7 linked regions of the Homo sapiens genome follow. The protein of the gene in region 5 purifies or fractionates together with the protein of the main gene of each other region. This does not show direct contact. Each region holds a gene or a part of one and is shown on either strand. Other genes may lie near its edges. The genes, in order: POMGNT2, ATP13A1, CLPTM1L, EMC10, SLC22A17, CYB5D2 and ARL6IP6.

Region 1 (4,200 bases), on a different chromosome or scaffold from region 5:
CCCCAGCTTCTCTCCCTCTCCCCCTTACAGGAGTCAGACCTGCAGCAGGTCTCCCCAACAATAAAAGGCCAAAACTCCTCTTTCTTCAGGACAGATTTTATCTTGGGCTAACTTTCTAGCTCTGCTCCCATGGAAGCCAGACAAGCCAGTTAGCTGAATGTCAGGTACAGTATTAGGCCAAACTGCCCATGGGAGTTTTTGACCTCTGATTGATAAGCTACACCTGGGCTGGAAGGACAAAGAATAAGCTATACCATCTGGTAAGAAACCATGGCCTTAGGCTTCCCTAAGTGCAGAAACTCATAACTGGGCATGTCCCTTGAGGGACCCTGGGAACTCTGATTGTGGGTTGTTGAAAACACATTGACTCCTATGGGGCATGGGCTTCTGAATCAAGGTGGCCCTCAGGAGTACTGATGTAAGGACTGCTCCTGTGGAAGGGAACTGCTGACATGGCCCTGCTGGCATGCTGAGCATCTCTCTCCATCCTTCTAAGAAACTCTGATGCCAGGTATGATCTGTCCAGGTCTTGCGAGTCTTAATGTCTAGTTGAGCCCAAAAAAAAACCCATGGTGGATACAGCTCTTCCTCCCCTCAGCCCTCTCCTACCTACTTCTAGGCTTTTATCCCATGTAGGTGGAACTGTGATATTAGTCCAGCTAGTCAAGATGAAATCCAACCAGCTTGCTCACTTTGCCATCCTGGGCGCTTTCCCATTGCCACGTCTCCCTAGCTAACAATCAAGATTAAAGGGCACCTGGGTTTTGACGACCAGCTCCCCTTCCTCCCATCCAATAAGAAGACTTGACCAAGATGCTTAGAATCATTTAATGAATGTTCCAAACACACCCTTCACTGGGCTACAGGTAAATTTCACTGGGATGGAAGCAGATGAACCACCCAATCAAACAGTACATGATTACTCGGTTTCCAGAAATCTGGATACCAGAAAAACTCAGTAGGAAACATCAGGATCACCTAGCCAGAGGTTCCTTGTGATTCTTTGCTTCCTCCTCTCCTCTTCCTCCTCCCTGCTAAGGAACTTCTCCAGGGGTACAAATGTTCAGGATGGGAGAAGGGGAAGTCAGGTCCCTTATCTCTAGGGCAAAGAGGAGTGCTGTGACACCACACCCCAGAGACAACAAGATGATGTGGAGGCACAGGCCTGCTCAATAAATAGTTCCCAGAAGTCTCCACAGTGGGATTAATGGGCCCAGGGACGCTGAACTGCAGGAGCCACCTTCCCGAGGCCAGGCTGTGGCCTGCTCGCTACGTGTTGCACACCAGCACATCTGCAAAGGGTCCCAGGAGGATCTTGTTGAAGATGCAGCGGACCCACACCAGGTAGGTGGTGAAGGGCTTGATGTTCTCAGTGAAGGTGTGGTTCTGCAGAGCCAGGATGTAAGGCACGTAGGTGTTCTCCCCCTGCTCCTGCAGCCACACCTCGTACTTCACCTCCCTCACCTTCAGGTATTTAAGGTTCCATGGGATCTGCCAGGAGACAGTGAGGCGGGCCTCGGAGGCGCCATGCACTGACGCCTGGCACCGTGCCTCCCGCACCTTGCCTGGATATAGGCCGACTGTCCACTTCTGCTTCCGTGGTCCTGGCCGGCCCTTCACCACGCGCCGTATGGTTTGAATGAGGGACGGGATGTCCACCTTGGTGTCCTGGTAGATTCGGAAGAGCCACTCGGGGTTCCGGCAACAGAGATGCCGTGGGACCTCACGGCTTTGCAGGATACGGGCTTGCTCAGCCCGGTCCAGATGGGTGATGCCCCCCTGATCCCAGGGCCGCTCAGGGTGTGTGACTGTGTTCTCTGGCATCATGTTCCGCCAGGCTACATACTGGAGGTCCATGCCAGGCAGCATGGCCAGCGTCTTATAGGGAGTGTAGTGGTCGGGATTGACAGCATATGGGAAGAGCTCTACCACAGTTGCCCCACGGGGCAGGAAGAGGGTGGTGACCAGCTGGGCCCCATGCATGCTGACCAGCATGGAGGCATTGCTGACCAGCCGCACGACATCAGCAAAGGTGTGGTCCTCCAGGGACACTGTCACTGTCTTCATCTGGAACTCCTGGGCCAGTGCCAGCAGCAGCTCTGCCTCATTCAGAATGAGTCTGTTCTGGGTTCGGCTAAAGACCAGAATGTACTCCTCGCCTAGGGGGACTCCTGTGTGGCTCACGTTCAGCTTTTCTGTCATGAACCGTGCAAACTGCCGGATCTCATTGCCTGAGACGAGGATGTTGGCCTTCGGGCCCTGGGGCTGCACAAAGCCATACTGGTACCAGGTAGTGATCTTGGAGAGGCCCACAAAAGCATGGGAGAAGCACAGCAGCCGGCCCAGGGTCTTCAGCTGTGCCCGCAGGAGAGGCTGCTTGGGGCTGAGCAGCTTGTAGAGGTCGAAGTGTGCACCCTCGCCCCAGCCCTCCATGAAGAAGAGCCGTGCCTCGTGGGCCAGGCCGGGAAACTGCCGCAGGGTGTAGAAGAGTGGCAGCAGGTCGTCATGAAAGACGTGCATGAGGTTGTCGGGGTTGAAGCGGTTGGCGATGAGGGCCACGTCTGGCACGAACACCGGCTTGGGCATGAAGCGCAGGGCAGCAGCAGGCAGCTCCACGAAGTTGAAGTACTGAGTGTTGTGGTCCTCCACGGTGGATAGGTCGAGCAGGGCTGGCTGGAAGCGCCGGGAGCCCAGGTTGGGCAGCATGACAGAGGTGTTGCCATGGAAGAAGATGAACTCCTCAGCCTCGTTGGAGTAGCAGAGCCACTTGAAGCGGCAGATGCGGTCTGTGTGCGTGCGGCCCGTGCACACCATGTGTGTGCCGCCCTCCATCAGGATCTGCAGTGCCTTCGGGTAGTCGATCCTCAGTGCTGGGGCTGGCTCTGTGGCCTGTCGGCTGAGGGCCAGCTCCTCCTCCAGTGTGGCTGCATGCTCACGCAGCCGCACATGCTTCCACAGGACCGCTGCCAGCACCGACACCAGGAGGGCGTTGAACACCGCCGAGAGGTGCATCCTAATGCCACTGTGGGGCCCTAATGAGATGACGGCCACTGGGAAGCACCACAGGCCAGGCAGGCTTCACCCATCCCTATGGGCATCCTGAGAACTGGTGAAAGCCTGCAGGAGGAGAGAAGGAAAAGAAAAAGGAATTGGCAGTCTTCCTGGCATCATTACAAGCTCCTGCTATGTGCCAGGCACGGTAGCTAGGCTCTGTGTGCCCGCTACAGCACTGGATCCTTGCAGCCATTGTGCACATTGGTAGGCGTGGTAGATTAGACCATTGTTTAAAATATTCTCTCCCTCCCCATCGCCTCCATGTTGGAAAGTGCATCCCCACACCCGACTTTGGGCTTAGCCATTTAACTTGCTTTGGCCAGTGAGATGTCAGCAGACAGAACATAATCAAAGGTTTGGAAAGTGTTTGGGCTGGCCTTGCCCTCTTTATGACACTGCCATAAGAAGAATGTATTCAGGCTAACTTGCTGGCCCCAAGAGGAGCGAGATACGCATGAAGCAGAACTGCTCCGGCCATGCCCTGTTCTAGTTCAGCTGATCCCTCATGACTGAGTGGGCCCAGCCAAGAGCAGCAGTGCGATCAGCCAAACGCAGCCAAGATCAGCCAACACATAGACATCAGGGCTGAGCAACAGCTGATTAAACATCCCTGAAATTCTGGGGCTGTTTGTGATGAAGCACTGCTGCAGCAAAAGCTAACAAAGAGAGGCCATAGGAAAGACAGGCCATAGGAAAATCCCTTGCAGGGGCCTGACATTCCTGGACTCTGGGTAATGACTTTTCCTTAAATGAGAACAACTGGCATTGGAGATCTGTGAACACTGTTCCCAGGTTGCACACCAAGACCCCAGTATGCCGCCTTTGAGAGACACACACACGTATGGTCAGCTAAGCTTTGCTCCTGCTTAAAGCTCCTTTAGAAATCATGCCTGCTGGCTTTCAGAATCCCTTAGGAGGAGGGTAGAAACTTGTCCCCTCAGTGGTAAGATAATTGTATCTGGGTATCATCATTGAAAAATGTTTTGTGTACTGAGGCAAAAAAAACCAATAGGGTTTTAAATGCCCTCTCCCATATACACACACTGACAGAGAGGCCTGGCTAGGGGTAAGCATTTACTCCCTCTTCTTGCGATATTGTGAAGGGTATCATGCCTGCTCTGGGACCCAGGATTATTCAGACAGTTG
Region 2 (4,354 bases), on a different chromosome or scaffold from region 5:
CACAGACCCCTGGCCTTAGGGAGCTCACACTGCACCAGGGGAGACGCATGATCAAGAAAGTCACAGAAATCGGAGTGCTGAGTGCCATGAGAGAGGAGGTGAGAATGGAATCCAGAGAGGGTGGAAAGGCCTCAGAAGTGGCCACTATGAAGGCGATGAGGACCTGTGTCACTGGGAAGGGGGCTCCAGGTGCAGGAACGGGGCAGAGCATGCAGGCTGTGAGCTGTGGCCTGGGCTCTGCACACAGTACTGCAACCTGAGGCTAAATTCTGGAAGGATCCGCAGCTGTAGGGTGCAAGCAGAAAGAACGAGAGCCCAGGAAGAAGCCAAGCGGCAGATGTGCCGGTGGTGGAGGCGGAGGGTGGGCTTTGTGGAGGATGGATGGGTGAGAGGGCTGAGGATGCCACCTAGCCCTGCCCAAGACCAGGGCAAAAGAGTAGAGCTAGGGACACACCAGGACTGGGGCAGGTAAGCCCTGCGTGTGCTCTGCGTGAGCCAGGACTGGGTGGGTCCCCACAGCAGTGGACAGACTGAGTGCCATTTGGAGTCTCCAAAGGTAGAAGCTGGAGGCGGGGCAAGGAGGACAAAATCACAACCATTCAACCTGGCACTGTGGGACACAGGAGGTGACTCAGGGAGGAGCTGACGGGCCAGGCACATGGTGAAGGCAGGGGGAGCCTGGGCCCGTACCTGCTGGTGAGTGAGGTGTCCCAGCTCCTTGTACCCCAGCGCCAGGACGCGGGCTCCTTCCCGGGAGATCTCGGTGTGGATGTGGTGGTAGTCGGGCGGGCACTGGGAGAACTGCAGGGAATGCAGGGGGATGTCACGGGCTGCCCCGCGCCCCCACCCCTTGCCCCAGGCTGGGGCCAGCTCACCATGGAGTGCAGAGTTTCGGGGGCCCCCTTCACGGCCGCGATGTAGCAGAGGTCGGTGGAGCCCAGCTTCTCATACGAGGCAAGCACGGACATTCGCTTCAGGGCACTGGCAAAATGAAAGCGCTGGTGAATTTTCAGCCCCTGAGTTTTAATACTTCGGGGGAATACTTTCTCATCTGGAAACAAATAAGTACGAGTCCTGAGGGGCTTTGCTCCAAAGAGGCAGCCAAGCCCCTACCTCTCACCCCGGCCTCCCCCACCTCCCTCCTGCCTCCCCCAGGGCCTGATCGGGGCTCTGGGCTAGAGCAGGTGTTGGTCCAGAGCTGGAAGACCTGGGCTTGGAGGACCCTGGCACTGTGGCTTCGGCCAGGGCAGGGCAGATTCCAACCCAGAGGGACACCCAAGGACGTGGCCTATCCTGGGTCTAAAGTGAGCCTCTGGCCACCCACCTCGGGGAGCATCAGAGCTGTAGGCCTGCCTGTCCCCAAGATGCTCTGAGGGGTGCAGCCCACCTGCCTAGGGCTGTGAGAGCCAGTGGCTCCCCCTTGCTGGGCCTGAGGCCCCAGCCCCTCACCTTTGGTCAGCGTCCAGTCCACGGCCGTCAGCATGGCCTTCTCTAGAGGGTCACCCACGAGGGTGCCGTCGTCCAGCTGCATGAGCGAGTGGCACGAGGCCAGGGCCCGGTGTGTTTCTACAGGGATGCTGGACACTGGGGTCACCTCCTTCCCGTCTCTGCAAGGTCGGGGAACAGCTGGTTACAGAGTGCAGGCGGGTAGGGCGAAGCTGCATCCCCACCAGCAGAAGGACCCCCAAGGCCATTCATTCCGTGCTTGTCACTGGGGTGGCTTGGGCGCCAACTGGGTCTTTATGAGACCTGCACCTGCTTCACAGATGCCCCCAGAAGCCAGGCATTGTGCCTGGGGGTCATGTGGTGCATGGCTGGTGTGGGATGTTCCAGGCCTGAGCTGAGCCCCCGTGCCGCTACCATGGCTGACACCCAGGACTTTGTGGGGAGCCCCTGGAAATGAACCCGAGGCAGGGCCTCTGACGGGCCCTCACTGCAAGGGCTTGGGGTGGATGGGCCACCTGTCTCTCGACTTCCCAGAAACCCCATCTGGGTGACCTTTGCTGCAGGGCCCCTGATGCTTACCTCAGCCCGGCCACACCGCGCACCACCAGGCTGTCACTGGTCAACGTCCCCGTCTTGTCAAAGCAGCACACCTCGACCTTGCCAGCAAAGGGGATCCGGAAGGGCTCTGTGCAGTACATGTCTAGGGGCGGGAGTGAGGTCAGGGGTCCTGCTTGGCCCCAGCCCACTCGGCACCCCATCCCATTTGACACACTCACAGAGCTTGGCCAGGGCGATGAGGGAGGTGTTGACGGCCAGGGACAGCTCGATGGGCAGCTCAGGAGGCACGACCGAGGTGAGGATCAGGGTGCACTCCAGAAACAGCTTGTAGCGGTTCCGGCTGGGGTCCTTGGTACCTGTGGAGACAGGGCCTGCCAACCTGGAGCCTCGGAGGGTGGGCGCAGGGGACCACAGAGGCCGTGGCGCTTACCTTCAATCCATACATAGGCAGCTGCAGCGATGGCAAACACCAGGAGGAAGAGGATGAAGATGAAGGTCTCCAGGTTGTTCGCAGTCACCCTCTTGACCCCGAAGAGGATGGTGCGCAGCAGCTTGCCCTGGAGGAATGGAGGAACAGCCTTTCTGCTGTCTGGACTCCCTCCAGCAGCTCAGGCCTGGAAGCGTGGGCCTGGTCTTGGGGTGGCCTCTGCACCCTGGCCCAGGTCCAGGGCCGTGCTGCCAGAGTCAGCCCGTGGGGCAGATGTTCTGGGGTCGGAAAGGGCTGATACCTTGGCTGTCCAACTGCCCTGGGGCCCGCCCTCCCCAGACCTGGCCCCGCACCTGGGATGTGTTGAATCCGGTCCGCAGGACGTAGGCCACGCACCCGCTGTCAACCGCTGGGGAGAGAAGCAGAGTCACCGTCATGCCTGTCTCCTCGTCCTGACTCCCTCATGATCAAGCAGACGGGCAAAGGGGGTGGAAGCCCAGATACCCCCAGACGCCCATGAGGCACCTACGCTTCAGGCCCGTGGTGGCTTTCTGTGGGGGGATGTGCTGCACCACCTTGGTGCCCCCGAAGATGACGTGCAGCCGGGAATCAGCCTGGAGGTCCAGCACCCGGTCTGGGCTGAGGTCTTCGATGGGCTCCTGGGGAGGAAGATCGTGAATCTGGATGGCCAGGCCTACCTTGCTTCCTTCTCCATCTGAGTTCCTGGACAGCTGGACCTTGAGGCTGGAATGAGCCAGGGGGATCCCCACCCGACCAATACATCCCACCCAGCTCCCAGATCCTCACCCTCACCCCGTCCTGTCTTCTCCCCATTGCACTCACAGTGCCTGCTCTCTGGGGCCTGCACTTGGCCTCGTCTGGGACTCACCCCTCTGGACTGCTCCCAGCCCACCTTGGTCTGACATCCCAGGGCACCAATGTACCCTGGATGCCCTTGGCTCTCTCACCTCCTTCCTCGCCCCCACCACCCGGCTCCCCAGTCCACAGAGCTCATCTGTGCCCACACTGCCTCCTCCGCCTGTGCCTGAGGGGGATCCCCGCCACCCCCTGGGCCTCCACCTCCTGGCCTGTTTCCTCCTGAACAGCTTGAGGATCCCCATCCTCCACCAAGTACCTTCATCTGTGGCACGGACTCCCCCGTGAGCATGGCCTCGTCTACGATGCAGCGGCCTCGCAGCAGAAGCACGTCACATGGCACCAGGTTCTCCTGTGGGGAGCGGCCTGCAGGGCAGAGGCAGGAGGGTTGGCCAGAGGCCCTGAGGCTGGGGCTCCCACTGGGACTGAGCGGAACCCGGCCTCACCGATGGAGACGATGTCCCCTGGTACGATCTCATCACTGGCAATGGGCCTCCACTTGCGGCTTCGGTAGACCTGGGCGGGGCATGGGTGTCAGCACAGAAGCCGCACCTGTGCTGCACCCCCAACCTGGGTCTCCCTGGCAGCCACACCTGGATCATGTGGGGCTTGTTGCCCATCTTCCGGATCTCCGACATGTTCCGCATCTGCTGCTGCACCAGCGAGGCCTCGAACGCCACCAGCATGGATAGCGTAAAGACGCTGTAGTACCAGTACTCATCCAGGCACCAGAGCCCCACACAGAACACCTGTGGGATACCAGCCTGTCTGTCCTTGCCCTACCCGCCCTGTTCCCATGAGCCCCTTCCACCCACCGGATCTGATATGTGAGGGTGGGGAGAGGCTTCCAGGTTTAGAAGTGGTGGGCAGGCTTGATCCGGTTAGGAAAGCCCCAAGGGAGGAAATGGGGAGATGGGCCAGAGCTGCTGCTTTACCTGAAATACAAAGAAGGGGGCTGTGGCTCTCTCCTTGAAAAGCTCCGAGAAGTCAGGCACCACCATCTCGGCCCTGCAAGAGACCAGGCCCCATCCTGTTCCCAGGGCAAGG
Region 3 (4,819 bases), on a different chromosome or scaffold from region 5:
ATCAGACTCCCCGGTGAGCAGGTTGATTTCTTCTGGCTTGGGGACCATGTAGGTGGTCAGAGGACTGACCAGGTGCACCTGCTTCCCGTCGTGCCACGGCAGGACCCCAGCGTGATGGAGGAAGATGTAGGCATACAGCGTCCCATTGTTTCTCGTTTTCTTTGGTACAGAAACATTAACTGTCCTGAAACAGAACAATCATTTCCACTACATACATATTATATTCTGGGTCTCTAGAACCTATTCAAATACCTTTATAAAGCTGCTTCAATAAACTAATTTTAGCTCAGAAGTACTAAAAATGAAACCCACCTGCCCAGGGCTTTACGAGTCGTGTGTGTGTGTGTGTGTGTGTGTGTGTGTGCACGCGCACGCGTGCGCGTCCTGAGAACTCGGCACAGGTGTGGGCGCCTACAGCCGAAAGCAAAACGGCCCGCACTTCCTGCCTCCATCTCAGGAGGCTGAGAGGTCAATAACCCACCTGAGGCCACAAGGCTGAAGCAGCCAGATGGAAAGCAGCTTCTGGGCCTGGCCAGGGTACCAGCTGACCACACACACTGAATCACCCAACTCCGAAGCGACAGAAGGGAAGGGCAGCAGCCACGAGGGCTCCAGGTGCCTCGGCCCACACTACTGGAACCTCAGAAATTTAATGTGGGTAGTTTTTTTGGGTGTTGTAGTTTTAAGGATAAAAAGATGATCAGCCACAAAGGACTGACTTTCAAGGCTGTCAGTCCTGACTGTGTGGCATCCAGCACGAGCTGAGGAAAGGCCCGGCGAGCTGCTACAACTGTAGGCCTCGGACCAGGTGCCTGGCTCTTCACCCGCACACCAGGGCCCGACGTCCATACTACAGCCCCATGGAAAAACCTCGCATTCCACCTGTTTACGGTTACATGAGTTCTTCTTCCTCTTTAAAAGTCTCTTTTTTGAGACAAGGTCTCGCTGTCACCAGGCTGAAAGTGTAGGGGTGCAATCACAGCTCACTGCATCCTCAACCTCCTGAGCTCAAGTGACCTCCCGCCTCAGTCTCCCGAGTAGCTGGGACTACAGGTGGGCGTGCCACCATGCCTGGCTAACTTTGAAAACTGTTGTAGAGATGGGGTTTTGTCACATTGCCTAGGCTGGTCTTGAACTGCTGGGCTCAAGTGATCCTCCCGCCTTGGCCTCCCAAACTGCTGGGATTATAGGCATGAGTCACTGTGCCCGGCCTCTCCTTAAAAATCTTACGGTTGGCCGGGTGCGGCGGCTCACGCCTGTAATCCCAGCACCTTGGGAGGCCGAGCCGGGCAGATCACGAGGTCAGGAGTTTCAGACCAGCCCAGCCAACATGGTGAAACCCTGTCTCTACTAAAAATAAAAAAATTAGCCAGGCGTGGTGGCGGGTGCCTGTAGTCTCAGCTACTTTGGAGGCTAAGGCAGGAGAATCCCTTGAACCCGGGAACCGGAGGTTGCAGTGAGCAGAGATCACGCCACTGCACTCCAGCCTGGCAACAGAGCAAGACTCTATCTCAAAAAAAAAAAAAAATCTTACGGCCAAAGTTGTAATGAAAAACACAAAGGCATCTATGGCTCCTCACTACCCAGGAAAGAGTATGTCTCCACCAGGACATCTTAAGTGTCTCTCTTCAGGCAGAGGGTGCAGGGCTGTGTATTTCTGGTGGAATGTGCACTTGGAGACACTTGAGGCGGAGCTGTGTTAAGAGTGCTCATTCTCCCCACTTCCTCCAGGCTGACACTGTGCCAGGTCAAATGGAAAACCTCACTAGCTGTCCTTGGTAACTGGTACACGGCCCGGCACGGAAGAGGCAGTATTCATGTCTGGGAAATTAAACCCAGTGCAGATGAATCCTGAGCATTTTTGAAAGGTGTGGGCAGCTACAACCGAGCGGGCAGCTTGGTCACCAGCACTTCTGGCCTCCCCTTCATGGAGGCAGAGAGAGGGCAGGAACTGGCTTGAGGTCACAGGCCTAAAGAGGCCAGGCAGAAACCGGCTTGCCAGCGCCTCCAGCTACCCCCAGGGACTGGCTGCCTAGAGGGCGTGGAGTCCAGCATGAGTCTCAAACTTTCATTATTCTCTCCTCAGATACCTCCCAGGCAATGAAGGGAAATGGTTGACTTGTGAGAAGCAAATCATATTTAAAAGTATACTTATTCAATTAAAAAAAATTAGGCCATGTCAGATGTAATTTTTAAGATACTCTACATATTTGGACATTGATCTATTCTAACGTCACATGTCACTTATTTATGATTTTCTACAAAATTGCTTCCTCTATCCTCATCTCTTTTCCCTCACAAGTAACTTAAGCGAACTACTTCCACCAGGAAAAGACAAGTTGGTCCCCGGTAGTGAAACTGCAGAGTTGTCTGCTCTCCACTGGTTCACCAAGCGTGGCCCCTGCTCCTTCGGAGCCTCCCCGTCCAGGACATCCCACTGCCATCACACTCTGCTGAGAACTACTTCTTAAACGACATTCATCACCTGTCACCTTCCAGGCTGAATGTTTACAGGCCACGCATAGGCCTCCAGTTAGGATATTCTACCACTTCAAGACATTCGGTAAGACTAGTTCTCTAAAATAAACATGTTATGTACAGAAAGCTAACTTTTAAACAATCTGAACATGAGTAATGTTTTCCCTTTCACTGGCATTTTGTCCTACGCCCATACCTTTCAAATTTGGACTCCACATCAAAGTCTTCCACATTCAAGACCAGGTCGATGTTGTTCTCAGCACCCAGGTGGGACCTCGTCGTGGTGTACACGCTCAGCTGGAAAGGAGGGGGCGTCGAGAGTCAGCTCGGCCAGGCCCTGGCAGGACGCACTCAAATCCCACGGCCAGCTGGAGGGCGGAAGACCTGGCCGCTGGGGAACCAGGAAAGGTTCCATCTCGACTCGCGCGGCCACAGCTCCGAACTGGGACGGGAAGGCGACGTCTGGGGCCTGGAGGAGAGGCCCCCACCCCAACCCGCCCGGCCCCCGGCCCCGCGGACGCTCACCTGCAGCTTGGGCCGCCGCGCCAGGTAGGGCTGGATGCAGTTGGCGTCGCCGGAGCACGGGCGGGTGTAGACGATGCCGTACATGACCCAGCAGGTGTGCACCACGTAGACCACGAACACGCCCACCACCAAGCTGGTGAAGGAGCTGCGGCCGCTCCACATGGCGGCCCCGCGCCCGGCGCCCCCGGCCCGCCCGCCTCTCAGCCGCGAGCCCCGCCCGCCCGGCGCCCAGCCCGCCGCTCCGGGCTCCGCCGCTCACTGGAGAGCCGCCGCGCGCCACCGCCACCGCCGCGGGGGAACGAATGCGCCGCGCGCCGCAGACCGCCGGCCGCCCCGCATGCTCCGGCCCCGCTCCCACCTGGCGCCGCGGGATTCGCCGGCCCCGCGCGCCGCTTCCGGGCCCCGCCGCCTGCCGGAAGTGGACGCGCCGCGCGGCTCCCTGGGAAACGGAGTCTCGGCCGCTGCCGCGCACGCGCATCCAGGATGCGGCGCGTGTGTGACGTTACCCGCCCGCGCCGCCCTCCTGGGGTGCCTCTCAGGGACCCAGGCGCTCAGCTGCTGGGGCCGCGGAGGGCGTTCGCGGGGCGCCGGGGAAGGCTAGGGCCGCGGGGTCCCCGGGGCGCCGTCCCCAACCGCCGACGCCTGCCAGACCACCAAGTGGGGGCCATGTCGACGTGTGAGGAGCCTGGTGGAAGGTGATACTGGAATTCCGGCACTGGGCCTGCAACCCTTTTAGTCCACAGTTGTCAGAATCTAAAGGGAAGAAAAACGAAGTGCTCAGAACCCTCACAGAAGCCGGGCACCTCATCCCGTGTGTGGGTTTTTTCCCCAGTACAAACCCATTGTGGGGACAGGCGCTTTTGAAGAAAAAATTCAGATTCCCGGGCTGAAGTGGCTCCTCACAGCCTTGAACCTGACCCCCAGCTTCCCGCTAAAGCCGAGCGTGCCCAGCACGGCGAGGTCAGCAGAGGCCCCTCGGAGGGCGGCCGGGGGAGGTCAGTGGGAGGCCCTCGGGCAGCCGGTGGATGGGCCGGCGACCTCCCCGACTCCATCAGAAGCGCTCAGTCTGTGCCCTTCAGTTACTGGAGCAGCTCCCGTCCTTTGGCCAGTTCTCTGGAAGGTCGTTTCCGTTTCTGTGTCTGCCACACGTGCAGCACAATCGAAAAACCTTGTTCGACATTTCTAGAAAGAGTAGATGCTACTGAAGACCCAATAGATTGCTGAGGGTTTTCAGAGCAGGGACAATTGCATCAGGGTGCTGGGCTCCGGGAAGAACTCAGAGGACTTGGCTGACGGGCGGATGGGACAGTGATTGGTGCCGAGAATGGGCCAGAGAAGCAGGTCTGCCTGGAGCAGGCACCCGAGGCCGCGTGCAGGGGCGGTCCTGGGCCACCAACCCCTGGAAGCTGGGCCAGGAGCTTCGGAGCCATCCGAGGCTTTTTTCGCTCCTCTCACTCTCATGCACCTAGTTACCCTCCCCACAGAGTCTTCTCACGGCGCGGTTTTCGGCTACCATTGCAGTGGTGTCTGACTACACCCAGTGCCTCTATCGTTCCCCCCTCAGTCTGTTCTCGCTTCTTGGCAAACCTGTCCTTGGAAAGCCCTCTGCTGACTCCTGTTACCCTGATCAAATGCATCCTCCTCAGGAGGCTCGTGAGCCCTTTGCAGGGTGGCCCAAGAGGCATCACGCCCTGCTCTCCAGCCACTCTTGGGGTCCCCTACAGGGCCAGGCGTCCCACACCAGCAGCGGGTGCTGGTCCTGCCACAGTCTGTGCGACACGTGAATGAAGGCTGTAGACCTGTGGTCTGCGGGAGG
Region 4 (3,286 bases), on a different chromosome or scaffold from region 5:
CATGGTCCTCTGTCGCTACTTCCAATCCTCTCTCCCTTCTTTCTCTCCATATTGCTCTTCCACACTCATGCACCTCTTCTTTCCTTTCTGCTTTTTTTCTCGCTCACTCACCCGCTGGAGTGCAGTAGTGCAGCCTCCACCTCCCAGGCTCCAGTGATCCTCCTGCCTTAGCCTCTCAAAGTGCTGGGACCACAGGTGCGAGGCACCATGCCCGGCCTGTTCTTTTCTCTCTGCCCTTTTTTGTATTTTTTCCTTTCTCCTTTCCTTCTTCCCTAATGTCTGTCTCTCTCCTTCCCTTCTTAACTTCCCTTCTCTCTCCAGCCCTCTCCTACCCTCCTTTTCTCTTTTCCCCTATCTCCAGCCCTCTCCTACCCTCCTTCCCTCCCTCTTTCTCTCTCCCCCTCCGCACCGCTCCATCTCCCTCTCGGTCCAGTCCGCTGTCTGTGCCCCCTCTCTGTTCCGTTTTCTCTCCCACCCTTCTTCCCTCTCCCATTTCTTCTCTTTTCCCCTCTTCCTGTTCTCTTTTTCTCGCTGTCCTCTCTGTGGCCACCCTCCTTTTTCTCACTTCTGCTCTCCCTGTCCGGCTCTTCTCTCTCCTCTCTCCCTTCTAGCAGATTCTCTGGCTGTTTCCTCTCCTCTCCCTCTGTGCTCCTCCCTCCTCCTCTCTCCTCCCAGCCACTATCCTCTCTCTTCACCCTCTTCTCTTTCTGTCTCATGGTCTCCTCCTAGCTCTTTTCCTTCCCAGTTCCTAGCTCTCTCCTTTCTCTTTCCTCTTCTCTGGCTGGAGCTCCCCGCTCCTCCATCCCTCCCTCTCCCGGGGCCCCCTCTCCCCCACCCTCTTCTCCCCCAACACCCTCTCCCCCACCCACTTCTCCCTAGGACGCTCCCTCCTTCACCCGTTTCTCTGCTTCCCTCTTCTCCGAGCTCACCAGCCATGGCACCCACCCTCTCCCTCTCTTCCTTCCTGTCCCTTTTTTCACCCCCTCGTCTTTCTTTCCTCTTCTGTTTTTTCTTCTCTTTCCACTTCTGACCCCCTACACTGTTTCCTTCTTTCTCCCTCTTCCTCTCTCCCCTCCTGCTCTGGCCATCTTTTCTTTTTTTTTTTTTTTTTTTTTTTGAGACGGAGTCTCGCTCTGTCGCCCAGGCTGGAGTGCAGTGGCGCAATCTCGGCTCACTGCAAGCTCCGCCTCCAGGGTTCACGCCATTCTCCTGCCTCAGCCTCCCGAGTAGCTGGGACTACAGGCGCCTGCCACCATGCCCTGCTAATTTTTTTTTTGTATTTTTAGTAGAGACAGGGTTTCACCGTGTTAGCCAGGACGGTCTCGATCTCCTCACCTCGTGATCTGCCTGCCTTGGCCTCCCAAAGTGCTGGGATTACAGGCGTGAGCCACCGTGCCCGGCTCTTTCCTCCTGCTTTTTTCCTACACTCTCTCCTCCCTCCTCTCCTCCCTCTTTCTCCTGTTTGATTTCCACCTCTTTTCTCTCCTCTCTCCTCTGAATCTGCCTCTTCCTCTTCTCACCTCCCTCTTCCTTCCCTGTCTCTCCCCCTTGGGTCTCTCTTCCTTCCCTCTCTCTGGTTTCTCTGTCTCTGCCCTGTCCTTTCCTTTCCCTCCTCTCTGGACCTGTCTCCTCTCCTGGCTCTCTCTCCTTCAAGCTCTCACTCCCACTGGCCTCCCTCCCGGGAGCCCCGTCTCCTCCGTCTCCAGGTGGCCCCTGCATCCCTGCCTGGTGGGCCTTTGCCTCCCTCTCCTGTTCCTGCCTTGCCTGCTCCCAGGTTTCCAGGTCCTGACCAGGAGGCAGGAGTCCATACCGAGGCCCAAACAGGCTAGCCCTGAGCAGGGCCCCCAAGCCTGAGGCCCAGGAGTGGACAGACCTTTGTGACACCCATTCTCTCTTCCTTTTCCATCTGTCCGGAACTCTGGACACTGCCTGGAGGAATCAGGCCTGCCGTAGGCCCAGGAAGGCGGAAACAAAGACGACGCTCAGAGACAGGAAGCAACTTGCCTAAAGATACACAGCACGTAAGGAGCAGGGACAGGACTGGGTGGGGCCCCTGGGGTTGGCCAGGAGTGGGCTCCTGAATCTGCCGATCCCTGGCCTCCTATCTGAGCTCAGTGAGCAGCGGATGACGCCTTTCTGCTCCATTCCGCTCCCTTCCCAACTCTTCCTCTGACAACATGAAGCACCTCAGCACTGAGGGGACCTCACCTGAATTCCATTTCAGAAATGAGAAAATTGGTGCCCAATGTTTCTGAAGACCAGCAACTGCTAAGACAGAGACTTCGAGGGAACCCGACCTTGCCTGAAGGACCAACAGCGCCCCCTGCAGGACACTTCCCTCCATTGAGAGAAGCCACAGGCGCCGGCCTGAGGCATTCTGAGTGCGTGGAATCCTCTATTACCACCTCCTGGCAAAGAACGGAGCTGCAACCCAGCTATATGAGACACCGAGAATGATCTCAACAAAAAGGAACAGTGACCAGAATGCCTGGGGGAGGAACAGGGGATACTGGGTGGAAGGAGGGGAGAGGGAGAAGTTGTAATATTTTGTAAAAATGAACATTTTTACTCCTAATCAATATACAAACATCATGCTCAGCAAACTTCTTGGTATGAAACTTCTGAACTTCACACATTTTCAAGTCATTCTATGGGTGGGTGGATTGGCTCCCATGGAAATGCAACTGGGACTGCACATGGGAAACAAAGGAAAATGGAATTTGGTTCACACAAACCTGTTTGGGAGATTGCATTTCCAGGAAATGGGCCAAATTGAGTTTGTTTCCTTTGTAACAACATTGTTGTGCCTTGCTGACTGGAAGGTGGGTACAAATAAAGGAGGATGGACTGACAGCTGAAGAGGCACCAGTAATTAGCCCCTAATCCTTACCAGGGAGTCTCTCTGATGGGTTAAAGAAGCCTACAGAGGCCAGGGGCGGTGGCTCACACATGTAATCCCAGCACTTTAGGAGACTAAGGTGGATCGCTTGAGGTCAGGAGTTCAAGACCAGCCTGGCCAACATGGTGAAACCCGGTCTCTACTAAAAATACAAAAATTGGCTGGGTGTGGTGGCACACGGTTGTAATCCCAGCTACTCAGGAGGCTGAGGCAAGAGAATTGCTTGAACCTGGGAGGTGGAGGTTGCATTGAGCCAAAATTGAGCCACTGCACTCCAGCCTGGGTGACAAGTGAAACTCCATCCCACAAACACACCTGCCCCCCACCCACCAAAAAAAAAGGAGCCTATAGTTTCCAGTAGACAATTTGGGGTTAGTAAAGAATTTT
Region 5 (4,924 bases):
ATTACCTTGTTTAATCCTCATAGCAAGTCTTAAAGGAAGTTGGAAGCTAAGAGATTTGCCCAAAGTGGTAAAGCCAAACCAGATGTGGTTTAAGAGGGAGGCCCTGGCACTGAGGTAGAAGTCTCAGTTTTCTGCTGCCACCTTCCAGAGAGCCAAGAGAACCCACTCTTGCCTTCCAAGGAATGTGCCCAAAAGTTAGAAGAGTTGGGAAGGTGACTACAGTATGCATCCATGAAGAGCTCTCTGGGATCTAATCATGTCTCAGCTTTGCCACTCATTAGCTTTGTAACCTTGGGCCAGTTACTGAGTCTCTCTGACCATAAGTTTTCTCATCTTGTTTAAGAGAATAAGAATGCTGTACTGAGCTTCCATTGTTTTTTTCTGAGTGACACCCAGTCCCGCTTCTGCTAACAGTGCCCAAATTTTGCTTTACCTATTCCCAGTTGGGAGAAATAGGGGTGTGGGAGGCATGTTACTCTAGCTAGCCAGTGACATGCTCTCTGGAAATTAATCTTCAGTGGGATAACCCAAAGATTAAATTGCACTGGAGCTCATTCATCTAGAAGAAGCCCTGACAAAAATGTTGCTGGTTTTTGCTCCTCAGACAAGGAGCCTTCTCCGCTCCTGACTAGTTATTTTACGACGAGTTCTGCTTCTCCTTCATTCTGTGAGCTCCCACCACAACCTGCCCCACCAAATCGAATAATTCCCTTTTTGCTTAAGTTCATTAGAGCCAGTTTTTATTGCTTACAACAACAAACAACAACAACAACAACAACAACAACCCCTAATTGATCCAAACACCTACCTTGCAATGCTGTAAAAATTAAATGATACGAAGTGTGTCAAGTGCTTAGGCCAGTTCTGGCAGCAGTGCAAGCAGTCAGTAAGTGGTGACAGTTGTCTGTAAGTCACCACTGGGGGCAGGGCACAAGGAGGGAGAGGGGAGCTTGTTATCGGTGTGCATTCCACTGAGAAAAACCTTCCCCCAAGAGATAGAAGGACAAACAGAAGGGAGGGAAGTCCAGGCTATGATATGCTCGTTTATTCCAAATGTCTTTATTGAAACAGAATGATAGAGCAAGAAATAATGAGGTCTGGGTGGATGTCTTTGGGCGCAGGATGGAGCCCAGACCCAGTGGTTACAGTGTGGAGCTCTCTCCCTGTCCCCTGACTCTGGCCAAGGAAGTGAATGCAAAGCAGCAGGGAGGAGGCAGGGTGGGGACGGCCCTCTGAGCTCTCCGCGATGGCTGGCGTGAGGTGCCTCTGAGACTTCTGGGCAGCCCTGCCTTCCCTACTCAGTCTTCCCGATCTTCTTGCCACCTTTCTGTGTGGGCCAGCCTCCCGCCAGGGTACTCAGAGGCCGCTCAGAGGGCAGGGTTGGGGGTGGCAAGCAGCGGGACGTGGTCACAGCGGGTAGGGGGTGGCTGCCGCAGCAGGGAAGGCCGGCGACACAGCTCCCCGTCCCGGAGCACCTCGGGCAGGAGCTTGCGCTTGGTCTCCGGCAGCAGCATAATGCTGAGAATGCAGAGGAGGGCGCAGGCCGCCAGCACCACGTGCTGCAGGAAGGCTCCATGGCCCATGTGGAGGCGCTGGGCCGGGCCGCTCAGTCCTCCAAGCGCCCCTAGAGCCATGATCAGGCCCAGGCCACGGCCCCTGGGGGGAGACAGAGGAGGAGCTCAGCCCACAGCTGTAGCCTTGCTGGGCCCTTCTCCCGCAGCCCCCCTCCTCCAGCCCGCAGGCCCTGTCCTCAGGGGTGGGGTGGGGGAGCGGGAGGCGAGGGGGCCCGGCTCTGCCCCTGGGGGCACCCCTGCTCTCACCGGACAGTGGTGGGGATGACCTCAGCAGCAAGGAGGGTGCTGAGGATGGCGGCAGCTTGGGAGGAGAAGAGCCCAAGGACAGAGAAAGTGGTGATGGCAGCCTCGTTCAGATCTGCAGAAGCAAGAGGGATGATATGAATGCAGGTGGGGAGGTCAAGGCTGGCCTAGTCCCGGGTGTCATCCCCTTGGCTCTCTGTTCCCATGGCTCTAGCTGGGCAGGCTCTGGGCATTCAGTAATTGACTGGGAGAGCAGATGGGGCTGTGGGGCCAGGTGGAGGCTCGTGGAAGAGCTGGGCAGGGTCTGGGGCTTGTCTTGGGAGGCCTGTGCCAGAAGAAATGGCTGTGCCTGTCTGAAGCACCTCTGTTGGGGTTCCCTTGTTGAGCCCACACTGTGGGGAAGATAGGATGCTCACAATCCCACAGGCCCAGCAGGACCAGGGAAGCAATGCCGGTAAGGGTCATGGAGAGAAGAAGGATGCCCCGGCGGCCAAATCGGTCCACGGTGACCCCCAGGAAGACACAGGCCAGGGCTGCGGTGCCGCTGGCCAGCAGAGAGCACAGGTAGAAGTCCGATGGGCTCCCTCCTCCTCCCACAGGCTGGTAGCAGTGGCGAATGGCATGGGCAATGAAGCTGTGAGAAGGGGTGGGGAAGCAACGAACAGAGCCTGAATCCCCTCCCGCAGCCTTCTACAGTGCTGATGGTCCTCCGCAGGGGTCCCCGGGCCTTCCCACCCAGCCAGCCCCCATTCCAGCTACTGGCCTGGCCCTCAGCCCAGACACCCAGGCTCACTTGGTGAAGCCCAGGATAAGCAGATTTTTCCAGATGTTGCGGTAGTTGAGGAGGGAAGCAAAGGAAAAGGAGGATGTTGCAGGGAGAGGGCAGGTATTCTCCAGGTCTTTGGGAGAGAGAGAGGAGCTGTCAGAAGAAAACCCTGAGATCCCAGGATCCTCCCACATGGGTGGTGGGGACCCTGGGAGAAGGTGGCACAGCTACAGCCATGCAGAGGGCACCATCATGTGTGCAAGTGAGGCAACACTCACAGGGATCCCTGTCTCTTACCCTGCAGGGCCTCCTGGGCCTCCTCCCCCAGCATCTGCCCATGGGGCCGGTTTCGCTCAGCCAGGATCCTCAGCACAGACTGAGCCTCCTCAATCTGCCGCTTCACTATCAGCCACCGTGCGGACTCCAGGAACAAACCAGGCCAGCTGGGGGCAGGGGGGAAGGGGTATACTGTGAGGCCTCCCTTCTCCTGATCTAGGGGTGGGAAATGTGCACCTCTGAGGGACTGGGGCTGGGGTAGGCCTGGACCAGGGGTAGTTGGAGAAGAGGAGGGGTCTCCGGGCTAGGGCTAGTTTGGAGGCAGAGATGGGAATTGCCAGACGACAGGTGAAGGGTAATACTGACCCATAAAACAGGAAGAGGATGCAGGGAGCGGTGATCATTCGCTGTAGGAATCGCCAATCCTTAGAGACAAGGGCCAGGCCCAGGAACAGGAAGTGCCCTCCCACCCCCACCAACTCCCCTGCCAGGGCCACCCGAAGCCTCTGGGTTGGGTCGCACAGCTCCAGGCCTGGAGATACAGCAGGGGTGGAGAGAGGAGAGGGAGGCCAGGGAGGAAGAAGGCATAAGAGAGAAGAAGAAAGAGGGAGGGAGGAGGACAGAGAGAGAGGTCAGACCCAGAGTGGAGGCTGCAGCCATTGCCTCCCTTGCTAACCTCTGGGTGGCAAGGACTGGGGAGACTGTTCAGCCCTCTCTCCTCTCCTGCTCAAACCTAGGAGGGCTCTAGGGCCAGAGTCCTGGGTGAGTGTTCAACATTTCCAATTTATAGGCCCTTTCCCATCAGGCCTCTTATTTGACCTTCACATCAACCCTTGTCCAAGGTCACACAGCTAGGGACAATCCTTGTCCCTGGACTTACTGCTATCAGGGGAATAGCACCTTATTCCTTGGCAGCAGTAAGTCCAGGACAAAGACTTTAAAGATTGTCGGGAGGGGGAGATAGGTGTAGAGAGAAGCAAGAGCCCTGGATTCTTCAAGGGGGCCTGGGCAGAAAGATAGCTGAGATTCTAGGCAGCTGAAATGTGGCCTAGGGGGCAGTGAGGATGGCCTGGCGATGCAGGCAGGTAGGCATGAGACCCAAGGGAGGGAATTCTGGGAGGGTGCCACTTACGCATCAGGTAGACACCCAGGTCAACACCGGCAAGCAGAAAGCCCAAGAGGAATCGGAGGGCCATGACGCCTGTGGAGGAGCCTGCAGCAGCCCCTCCTACTCCACAGGGGCCCACCAGCCCCAAGGTCAGCAGCACAATCCCGCGACGGCCAAATCTAGAAAGTGGGAAGGGCTTCTGGTCACCCAGACTCTCTGGTGGTGGGAAAGTTGCTGGGTAAGACCCAGCTGCACACTTCAGAGCTAGAGGTATGAGAATGAAGTTCTGGGAGCAAGAGTTGGACAGAGGCTTGAGAAGATGGGGAGGGATGGGGACCATGGGTGGGTGATGCCTGGCTACTGGGCACTGGGGTGTGGTTGTGGTTCTTTAAGAGGTGGGAACATTGACTCTTGGGCTATTGGTCAGAGATTAGGGCACTTGTCAATGGATGTGACATCACTCAACAGAGGGGATGGGATATTGCTTAGGGGATTTGGGACCATTCATCCTTAGGAACAGAGCTAATGGTCAGTGGGCCTGGAGCTTATCTTGCTCAGACTGTTCAGAGGAGATGTGGGAGGGGGGTTCATTGATATACGGAGTTGGAACTATTAACCTGTGGAGGGGAGGCCATTGGCCACTTGTGCATGAGGATACTACTGGTCAGTGAAGGTAAAGCCAATGATATTAGGGGACTGAGTAATTGATTTTTGGAGATGAGGCCATTGTTCCATGGAGGTGGGACATTGGTCTATTAATACATTAAGAATGGTCAGGCTGGGCGCAGTGGCTCACACCTGTAATCCCAGCACTTTGGGAGGCCGAGGCTGGCAGATCACGAGGTCAGGAGTTCAAGACCAGCCTGACAAATATGGTGAAACCCCATCCTTACTAAAAATACAAAAATTAGCCAGGTGTGGTGGCAGGTGCCTGTAGTCTCAGCTACTCGGGAGGCT
Region 6 (3,354 bases), on a different chromosome or scaffold from region 5:
TCAGCTGTGGCCCAACAACCTGAGCACCCTCCTATCTTGGGCAGGGGCCTTGCCCACCTCAGGGCACTGGGCTCAGTCTCTGATGGACTCAGAGGCCTTGCAAGAAAGAAACTGAGGTTCTTGGAACTGACGCCTCAGACAGCTTCCGGTGCCTGCTGTCAGAGAAACTGCCCCCAGCGAGAAAACATCCTACTTCTAGCTTACCAAGAACAAGGCTGTCACCCAAACGCCTCCCTCTTCTACCCAGCCTCCATCCCATCATTGGGGATCTGTACTCCACACCTTGTCCCTGCCTTCGGCACTTGTTCCTCTCAGTCTAATGGGACACACACAGGTGAACAGAAGACAACAAACTGAGCTGAGGCACAGGGATAGGGCCCCGCAGTTCACTAGGGTGGCCCTGGAAGGGTTTTGTGGGGAAGGCAGAGCCTGAACTACTCAGTCATGAAAGCAAGAAGAGGTTCAGGAGACACAGGGGAAGGCTGTGGGGAGGGAAAAGGAGGCAGGGCCCAAGGAAGCAAAGTCAAGCATCTGAACGCACGCAGGCCTCCTGGAGTCTCCTCCTCCTGGAGTCTCAGAGACCAGTGCTCTCTGAGGCTACCTGCATTCAGGCCTGTGTCACAGGAAGGCCCACGCCTATCTTAGCTTCTCTCCATAAAGTGAGCAGGCCAGGTTCTCACAGTCCCCTCTTTCTTGAGATGACACTGGAGAAGCTGTCTCTTCAAAGCTAGCGGCCAGGAAAGAAGGAGCTTTCCTTCCTGCTACCTTTGCCCTTGCTCCGCTCATTTAAGGCTGAGAACTCCGAATTTGCAGTGGTTTTTTTTGTTTGTTACTGTTTTTTTGTTATGTTGCCCAGGCTGGACTCCAACTCCTGAGCTCAAGCGACCTGCCTGCCTCAGTCTCCCAAGTAGCCAGGACCACAGGTGTGGCCCACAAGCCACCATGCCCGCCTCACCTGTTTTTAAGACAGCAGTTGAAGCCATCACTGCAGGTACCCTCCCCACCTCCTCGTCCCTCTCCTATAGATAGGCATGATTTGTGCTGTCAAACAGGAAACCAAAGCCCGTGGGTGGCTGAGCAGGCCAAAGAAAGCAAGAAATCCTGCTTGTGCCTTCTCATTCCCGGGTCAAGGTTGTGTCAGCAGGATCTTTGGAGAATTCGGAAAAAATAAAAAGATGCCCAGGCCTCAAGTCCAAGTCTCAACCCATTCAGTTGAGTGGAGTGAGGTCTGACCATCCGTAATTTCGGCAATTCCCCAGAAGATCTAATATGCAGCCAAAGTTGAGAATTATTATCAGTATTTTGAAAAAGCTCCCCAGGGTTAACAATCAATTCCTGAATTCACTGAATACTGCAGGCAGGATGGCCTAGGAGTTGGATTTGGGACAGGCAGAAAGGAGAAGAAGGGGAGCCTGCTTACCTCTTCTGGGAGCACCAGAGCCGGCTGCCCCTGGCTGAGCTCCACTCCGCGTTGCACGGCGGGAATGTCTGCTTCTCTTGCAGCTGTAGTTTGTTGGCCTCCAAGCCTCTGGTGATCGCAGCTTCTACCTGGGTCAGTGCCGGGGTGGGCAGCCCATCCTCTCCGTAGAACCGTCCTGTCACCCTCCCTGTGATGACAGGAAGGCAGATGTGAGTGAGAGTGAATACTCAGCTGCTGAGGCAGGTGTGGGAAGGCACAAGTTCCCAGGGTTTCTGACTTCAGTCCTGCTGGTGCGCGTTTAATAAGAACTTCTACTGCAGGCACTCCTGGTGCCTTGCACACCAACCTCTTAGCACCCTACAAGCCCCCACACAGCTGCATCCCTCTTCTAGCTGCAGAGCCCTTCAGCACAGAAACCATCAAACCTCTCTCACTTCCAGACAAGGCTTCCCTGAGGGCACAGCCATGTGTGATTCATTTCTCCATGCTTCCATGTGCTTGGAGCACACGCTGGGTATTCAATTAATGTTTGATGAATGAATGGCTTATTGGCTAACATTTTTTAAATGTTTATTATAATAGAGATGGGGTCTCACTCTGTTGACCAGGCTAGTCTTGAACTTCTGGGCTCAAGCAATCCTCCCACCTCAGCTTGTTGAGTAGATGGGGGTACAGGTGTAAGTCACACTGTGCCCGGCTTTAAAATGCCTGTCAGAATTTGTAAAAGTCTAAGCTATGGCAGCAGCCAGCAAGTGGTCCACCAGCCTATAGGCCAGAAGGAAAAACAGGTCAGTTCTCTCAGCCCAGGGTCCTAATGTAGCCCAGTCCTGAGGTGCAAATGCCCTTCAGAGGCAGCACCTGCCACAAGGCAAGAGAAGCAGAAAGGAAGCACTTGAGGGAGGTGCGACCGAAGAGGGAGCAACCCCTAAGAACTAGCTTTACCTTCGATTCTAGTGGCGCGTATGTTCAGCGCATCTGAGATTCAGCTCGTCTCCCAAGTCCAACGCCCTCCCTGACTTTCCCAAATCCGTGTTGCCTCTAGCCTGTGACCTGCATTAGGAGCCTGACTCCTCCTCCTCTACATCCACATCATACTCCCTTCCTTGCTGTCTGATCGGATCCATCAGAAAACCTCGTCAGTCCTACCTCTGAACAGATCCTGATTCTGTTCACTCCTTTCCATTCCCACTGCCATCACCCTCCTCCAAACCACGGACTGTGGCAGTGGCCTCCTAACTGCTCTCTGGTCAGCTCATGCCCTCCTAGAGTTCTCTGTCCATAAAACAACTAGGGGATCTTTTAAAAACATGAATCCTACCATGGCTCTCCGATGCCTGATTAAAACCCTTCAATGGCTTCTTAAAGCAGACAAAAATGCAAATTTCTTATCAAGGCCTCTAAGGCCCTGTAACCATTTAACTGATTTGCTTCTTCAGCCTCTTACAAGCTACGTCCCCCCTCGTTCACGGGGGGCTCCAGCACACTGGCTTCCTTTCTGTGTCTTGGCTGTGCTTCCCCACTCCCCACCTTCGCACCGCTCTTCCCTGACCCAGCACACTCTCCTCAGGTCTCGGTGTGGCTGCCTCCCACTCACCTGCCGGTCTCAGCTTAACGGTCATTTTCTCCAAGAAGCCACTCCTGAGCATGTGCTCTAAAGGAGCCAAAGCTCCCAAACGTATTACATCACAGTTTGATGCATGGTCCTATGTGGAGTTGTTCAATCTGTTTACTTGTCTATGATGGCTCTCTCTACTAGTGAGGCGCAGTACTCAGAACAGCTTAGCGCCAGGCGCAGCGGCTCACACCTGTAATCCCAGCACTTTGGGAGGCTGAGGCGGGCAGATCACTTGAGGTCAGGGGTTCGAGACCAGCCAGGCCAACATGGTGAAACCCTGTCTCTACTAAAAATACAAAAATTTGCTGGGCGTGGTGGT
Region 7 (3,992 bases), on a different chromosome or scaffold from region 5:
TTTATAGTCTTAGTTCTTGTATTTAGGTCTTTGGTCTATTTTGAGTATATTTTGTATATTGTGTAAGGTAGAGGACCAAATTCATTCTTTTGTGTTCAGTGTCCTATAACACAAAAAATACACATTAATTTGAGATGAATTACAGATTTAAATATCAAAAGAAGAAAAGTAAAACCTCATTAAGATACAGAATATCTTCATAACCTTGGAGTAGTCAAAGATTTAATGAAAAAGCCACCAAAAAAGCACTAGCCATTTTTTAAAATATTAACTGGACTTTATTCAAATTAAGAACTTCTGTTCATCAAAAGATCTTATTAAGAGAGTAAAAAAAGACACACCATAATAAACATTATTTACAACACGTATCTTTAACAAAAGATTTGTATCTAGAATACGTAAAGAACTCTATAAACCAATAGAAAAAAATGAGAAAAAGTTTTGAACACAAACATCAAAAAAGAGGCTTTCTGAATGGTCAGTAAGTACATTAATCATCAGAAAAATAAATATTAAAACCACTACAACATACTCTGCAGACCTACTAAAATGGTTAAAATTTATAACACTGATAATACCAAGTGTTCATGGTGATGTGGAACAACTTAAACTCATACGTTGATAGTGGAAGTGTAAATTGGTACAACTATTTTTCATACTTTCTACTAAAGCCTAATGTATATCTACCTTGTAACTCAGCAGTTCTACTCCTAGGATCTATCCAAGAGAAATAAGTGCAGATTCCCACCACCCACCGAAGACGTGTTCATAGTACCTGTATGTATAGGAGCCCCAAACTGGAAACACCCATCAGTAGTAAAATGGGTAAATACATTTTGCTATATACTGCAGTAGAAAAGAACAAACTAATACTACATACAACATGGATGAATCTCACAAAGACAGTACTGAGCAAAAGAAGGCAGACGCAGAAAAATATTTATTGTATGATGCCATGTAGATGTAGTTTCAAGAGCAAGTGAAACTAATCTTGGTGACAGCCCTCAGTATTGCAGTTACCTCAAGATCTGCAGGAGGTAAGTTGAATATTTAAAAGGGATCTTTTTGCAGTGCCAGAAATGTTCTCTATCTTTATGTGGTTGGTGAGTATATGAGAGTCTACCACAGTAAAAATGCATTGAACTGTATATAAATGTTAGACATTTGCATTTTACTGGTATGCTTTAATTAAAAAAGTGAAATGCATGTATAGATATAGATTGGATGAGGTAGACATTGTATTTAATTATCATTTATTGAAGATATTAAACTCATTAATTGAAGATAATATTTTCATTTTACTTGAGTCAATTTTAAATAAGTCCTCTATAGAGTTTTGACAAAGGAGAACCATAATTCCTTCAGTCTTTGTTAACAGACTTTAGAGATCACAAATGAGAGTCACAAGAGAGAAAGCCTGCAGGGATTGTCTGTCTTCCTCCAAAGAGGAAAATCATGGTGAATATTTTGAAAAGCTTTAAATTAAAGCAAGTGATTCTTCAAAGATTTAAGTCCTTTACCTAGCAGTAGTCTGTGACAATTGCTACAGTGTTCCCAGTGGGAATATGGTACATTTGAGATGACAAAGACTAGGAACCACTACTCCCGAGCATTTTTTCATTGCCATTAAAATGCATTGCTTTGCCTGCTTAGTAAGGAAGTCACTGAACATTTGAGCATGTACATCTCAGTAAAATTCAATTCTACCAACATTGTAGTTGTCGGCTTAGTAAACTGAACTTTAAAGGTTTTTCTATTTTTGTGGGATTGTGAGGATCACAAACTACTAAAACAGAACAATTAACTCTGGAAACCTTTTGATGATTAACTTTATTGGGTGAGTACAGTCATCCCCCTTTATCTGTGAAGGACTGGTTCCAGGATTCCACACAGGTATCAACATCTGAGGATACTTGAAGTCTCATTCAAAAATGGCTTAGTATTTGCATATAACCTAAGCATATCCTCTCATATACTTTAAAACATCTCCACATTATTTATAATATTATACCTAATACAATGTAAATGTTATATAAATAGTTGTTTTATTGTTCAGGGATTGACAAGGGAAAAAAGTGTATACATGTTCTGTACGGATGCATTTTTTTTTTCAAAATATATTCTACCTGCTTGGTTCATTTCGCAGATGTGGAACCCACTGATATGGAAGACCGAACTGTATTAATTTAAAAGTTTTTTGGATCGTCACTAAATATTTTATGATGAATGATAATGCTGATTGTTCAACTTTAGGTTTCTGTTCACTAGTCATCAACATATATTTGAGGAATTTCTTTTTTAAAGGGACAAAGCATTATACCTATTTTACGATGTAGATAGGTAATATAGGTAGGTAGATTAACCCTTAATAACACATGAGAAGCATCTTTGACTAGCCCTAGTTGGGTAAAGAAAGGTTGAGTCGAAAGTAAATAATAACTCCCTTGGAACAGAGCAGGGAACCATCAGGAAGCATCAGGGTCTATGTAGCTTCAGATGAATGCAAAGGGCTCTTCTTTGAAGAATGTACCTTCTTCAATCTCTGCCACAGATATTGTGCGACTGGAATCACTATGAGGTGCTCTTCAAGTGTTAGTTCACAGCTAAGTGCTTCTCTGGCTTTGGCTACTCCTTAGGAAAGGAGGAGAGGATATGGGTATTTATGACCGTCTCAGTCCAGGGCCCTTACTGCTTTTGTCTTTTGGCTTTTACTTCTGCTAGTGCACCTTCCTGTGTGTCCTCAATTTGTTTTGCTCCAGAAAGGAGAGTATTCTGTTCTGCCTTCTAGAGAGTCTCAGTTGGATACTACCTTCTTTTCTTTTTAATATGTCTGATTCTTACTAGGATAAGCAAATAGTATTATTGCAATACAGTTAGTGGGAAAAACTGTTGTAAGATTGTTACAAGATAAAGGAAACAAATGTCAGGGAATATTCATGCACATAAGAGTTATTAAACTAGTTGGCACTCCTAGCAATCATAAAAGAGATGTGTCTTTGCTGATTCTTAAGAACTCATTGAAAACCACTTCAATTAAGTAACCTATTAGAATGATAGCTGAAATATCTATGAAAGACATAGGGAGTTCCTTCATATAACCTAAAAGTGGTGCAAACAGAACAAATACTTGAAATAATATGTATTTTAAGTCAAATCAAAGTAAGAACAGACAGCATGGAAACACACCGCTAATTAATGAAAGAACTGTTTGTAAAATAACAAAACTTATACCTTAGAATTAGGTTATGGCTACACACAGTGACAATGAAACACAGTAAAGAAATAATAGGGATGAAACTCAGCATTACTCATCAGTAATGATTTGAAACAACTGTAATTGTTAACCAGTACAGTTTTGACACAGGACTTAATAAGATCTATCCACTATTTATCCTGCAGATGTCCAATATTCTTTAAGTTTTGTATTCATATGTGAACATTTGGGAAATACACTCCAAGGTCATAAGTATTTTCGATGAAAACTTTTGGTGTCTTTGTTATACCACGTTACATTTTTCTTTTTTGATTTGTGTTTTTCTTTTTTTCTAGGAAACTGACTGGACATTCTTTCCACATGGGCTATAGCATGGCGATTTTGAATGGCATCGTAGCTGCTCTTACTGTAGCATGGTGCCTCATGTAAACCCACACTGGAGCGATATTGTTGGCAAAACTTAATCATGATTGTTTTGTAATAACAAGAAGGAGCATCACTGTCTACTCAGAAGACTGAGAAACCTGCTGTTCATTATGTAGTTCAGATATTTATCACAATCATCCTCATTATGGAAGACCTTTTAAAGCATTGTTTTAGAATGTCTGAGTATTAAGATACAGATTAATTGGGAATATCTGAGTATTAAGTACTTTCTTCAGAGTATAAGATGTTTACCTCATCTTTTTACTTTTGTGTGTGTAGTTCTTTCAAGTTGTAGGAAACATTTTAATGGAATTTAAACTCAAAAACTTGAATACAGGACAATGCTTGCCTT

The links.
Region 1: the proteins of SLC22A17 (region 5) and POMGNT2 purify together in Homo sapiens (affinity purification with mass spectrometry; one large-scale study listed by BioGRID and IntAct). This does not show direct contact.
Region 2: the proteins of SLC22A17 (region 5) and ATP13A1 purify together in Homo sapiens (affinity purification with mass spectrometry; one large-scale study listed by BioGRID and IntAct). This does not show direct contact.
Region 3: the proteins of SLC22A17 (region 5) and CLPTM1L purify together in Homo sapiens (affinity purification with mass spectrometry; one large-scale study listed by BioGRID and IntAct). This does not show direct contact.
Region 4: the proteins of SLC22A17 (region 5) and EMC10 purify together in Homo sapiens (affinity purification with mass spectrometry; one large-scale study listed by BioGRID and IntAct). This does not show direct contact.
Region 6: the proteins of SLC22A17 (region 5) and CYB5D2 purify together in Homo sapiens (affinity purification with mass spectrometry; one large-scale study listed by BioGRID and IntAct). This does not show direct contact.
Region 7: the proteins of SLC22A17 (region 5) and ARL6IP6 purify together in Homo sapiens (affinity purification with mass spectrometry; one large-scale study listed by BioGRID and IntAct). This does not show direct contact.

Annotation. Positions count from the first base shown.
Region 1 is NC_000003.12:43,078,420-43,082,619, forward strand, and holds the end of POMGNT2 (protein O-linked-mannose beta-1,4-N-acetylglucosaminyltransferase 2), read right to left. Parts: intron 3,118-4,200; 5' UTR 3,013-3,117; coding exon 1,270-3,012; 3' UTR 815-1,269; downstream 1-814. UniProt on the Homo sapiens protein: O-linked mannose beta-1,4-N-acetylglucosaminyltransferase that transfers UDP-N-acetyl-D-glucosamine to the 4-position of the mannose to generate N-acetyl-D-glucosamine-beta-1,4-O-D-mannosylprotein.
Region 2 is NC_000019.10:19,653,094-19,657,447, forward strand, and holds part of ATP13A1 (endoplasmic reticulum transmembrane helix translocase), read right to left. Parts: intron 4,316-4,354; coding exon 4,243-4,315; intron 4,057-4,242; coding exon 3,901-4,056; intron 3,824-3,900; coding exon 3,754-3,823; intron 3,674-3,753; coding exon 3,567-3,673; intron 3,091-3,566; coding exon 2,961-3,090; intron 2,841-2,960; coding exon 2,785-2,840; intron 2,562-2,784; coding exon 2,435-2,561; intron 2,361-2,434; coding exon 2,223-2,360; intron 2,147-2,222; coding exon 2,026-2,146; intron 1,608-2,025; coding exon 1,450-1,607; intron 1,052-1,449; coding exon 876-1,051; intron 802-875; coding exon 691-801; intron 1-690. UniProt on the Homo sapiens protein: Endoplasmic reticulum translocase required to remove mitochondrial transmembrane proteins mistargeted to the endoplasmic reticulum.
Region 3 is NC_000005.10:1,341,677-1,346,495, forward strand, and holds the start of CLPTM1L (lipid scramblase CLPTM1L), read right to left. Parts: upstream 3,424-4,819; 5' UTR 3,166-3,423; coding exon 3,004-3,165; intron 2,776-3,003; coding exon 2,675-2,775; intron 185-2,674; coding exon 1-184. UniProt on the Homo sapiens protein: Scramblase that mediates the translocation of glucosaminylphosphatidylinositol (alpha-D-GlcN-(1-6)-(1,2-diacyl-sn-glycero-3-phospho)-1D-myo-inositol, GlcN-PI) across the endoplasmic reticulum (ER) membrane, from the cytosolic leaflet to the luminal leaflet of the ER membrane, where it participates in the biosynthesis of glycosylphosphatidylinositol (GPI).
Region 4 is NC_000019.10:50,486,127-50,489,412, reverse strand, and holds part of EMC10 (ER membrane protein complex subunit 10 isoform 2 precursor), read right to left. Parts: 3' UTR 1-3,286. UniProt on the Homo sapiens protein: Part of the endoplasmic reticulum membrane protein complex (EMC) that enables the energy-independent insertion into endoplasmic reticulum membranes of newly synthesized membrane proteins.
Region 5 is NC_000014.9:23,345,281-23,350,204, forward strand, and holds the end of SLC22A17 (solute carrier family 22 member 17), read right to left. Parts: intron 4,147-4,924; coding exon 3,992-4,146; intron 3,392-3,991; coding exon 3,226-3,391; intron 3,027-3,225; coding exon 2,881-3,026; intron 2,717-2,880; coding exon 2,611-2,716; intron 2,452-2,610; coding exon 2,234-2,451; coding exon of another isoform or gene 2,180-2,233; intron 1,933-2,179; coding exon 1,821-1,932; intron 1,657-1,820; coding exon 1,368-1,656; 3' UTR 1,038-1,367; downstream 1-1,037. UniProt on the Homo sapiens protein: Cell surface receptor for LCN2 (24p3) that plays a key role in iron homeostasis and transport.
Region 6 is NC_000017.11:4,152,927-4,156,280, reverse strand, and holds part of CYB5D2 (neuferricin isoform 1 precursor), read right to left. Parts: intron 1,608-3,354; coding exon 1,421-1,607; exon of another isoform or gene 1,358-1,420; intron 992-1,357; exon of another isoform or gene 857-991; intron 335-856; exon of another isoform or gene 88-334; intron 1-87. UniProt on the Homo sapiens protein: Heme-binding protein which promotes neuronal but not astrocyte differentiation.
Region 7 is NC_000002.12:152,756,198-152,760,189, forward strand, and holds part of ARL6IP6 (ADP-ribosylation factor-like protein 6-interacting protein 6), read left to right. Parts: intron 1-3,549; coding exon 3,550-3,643; 3' UTR 3,644-3,992.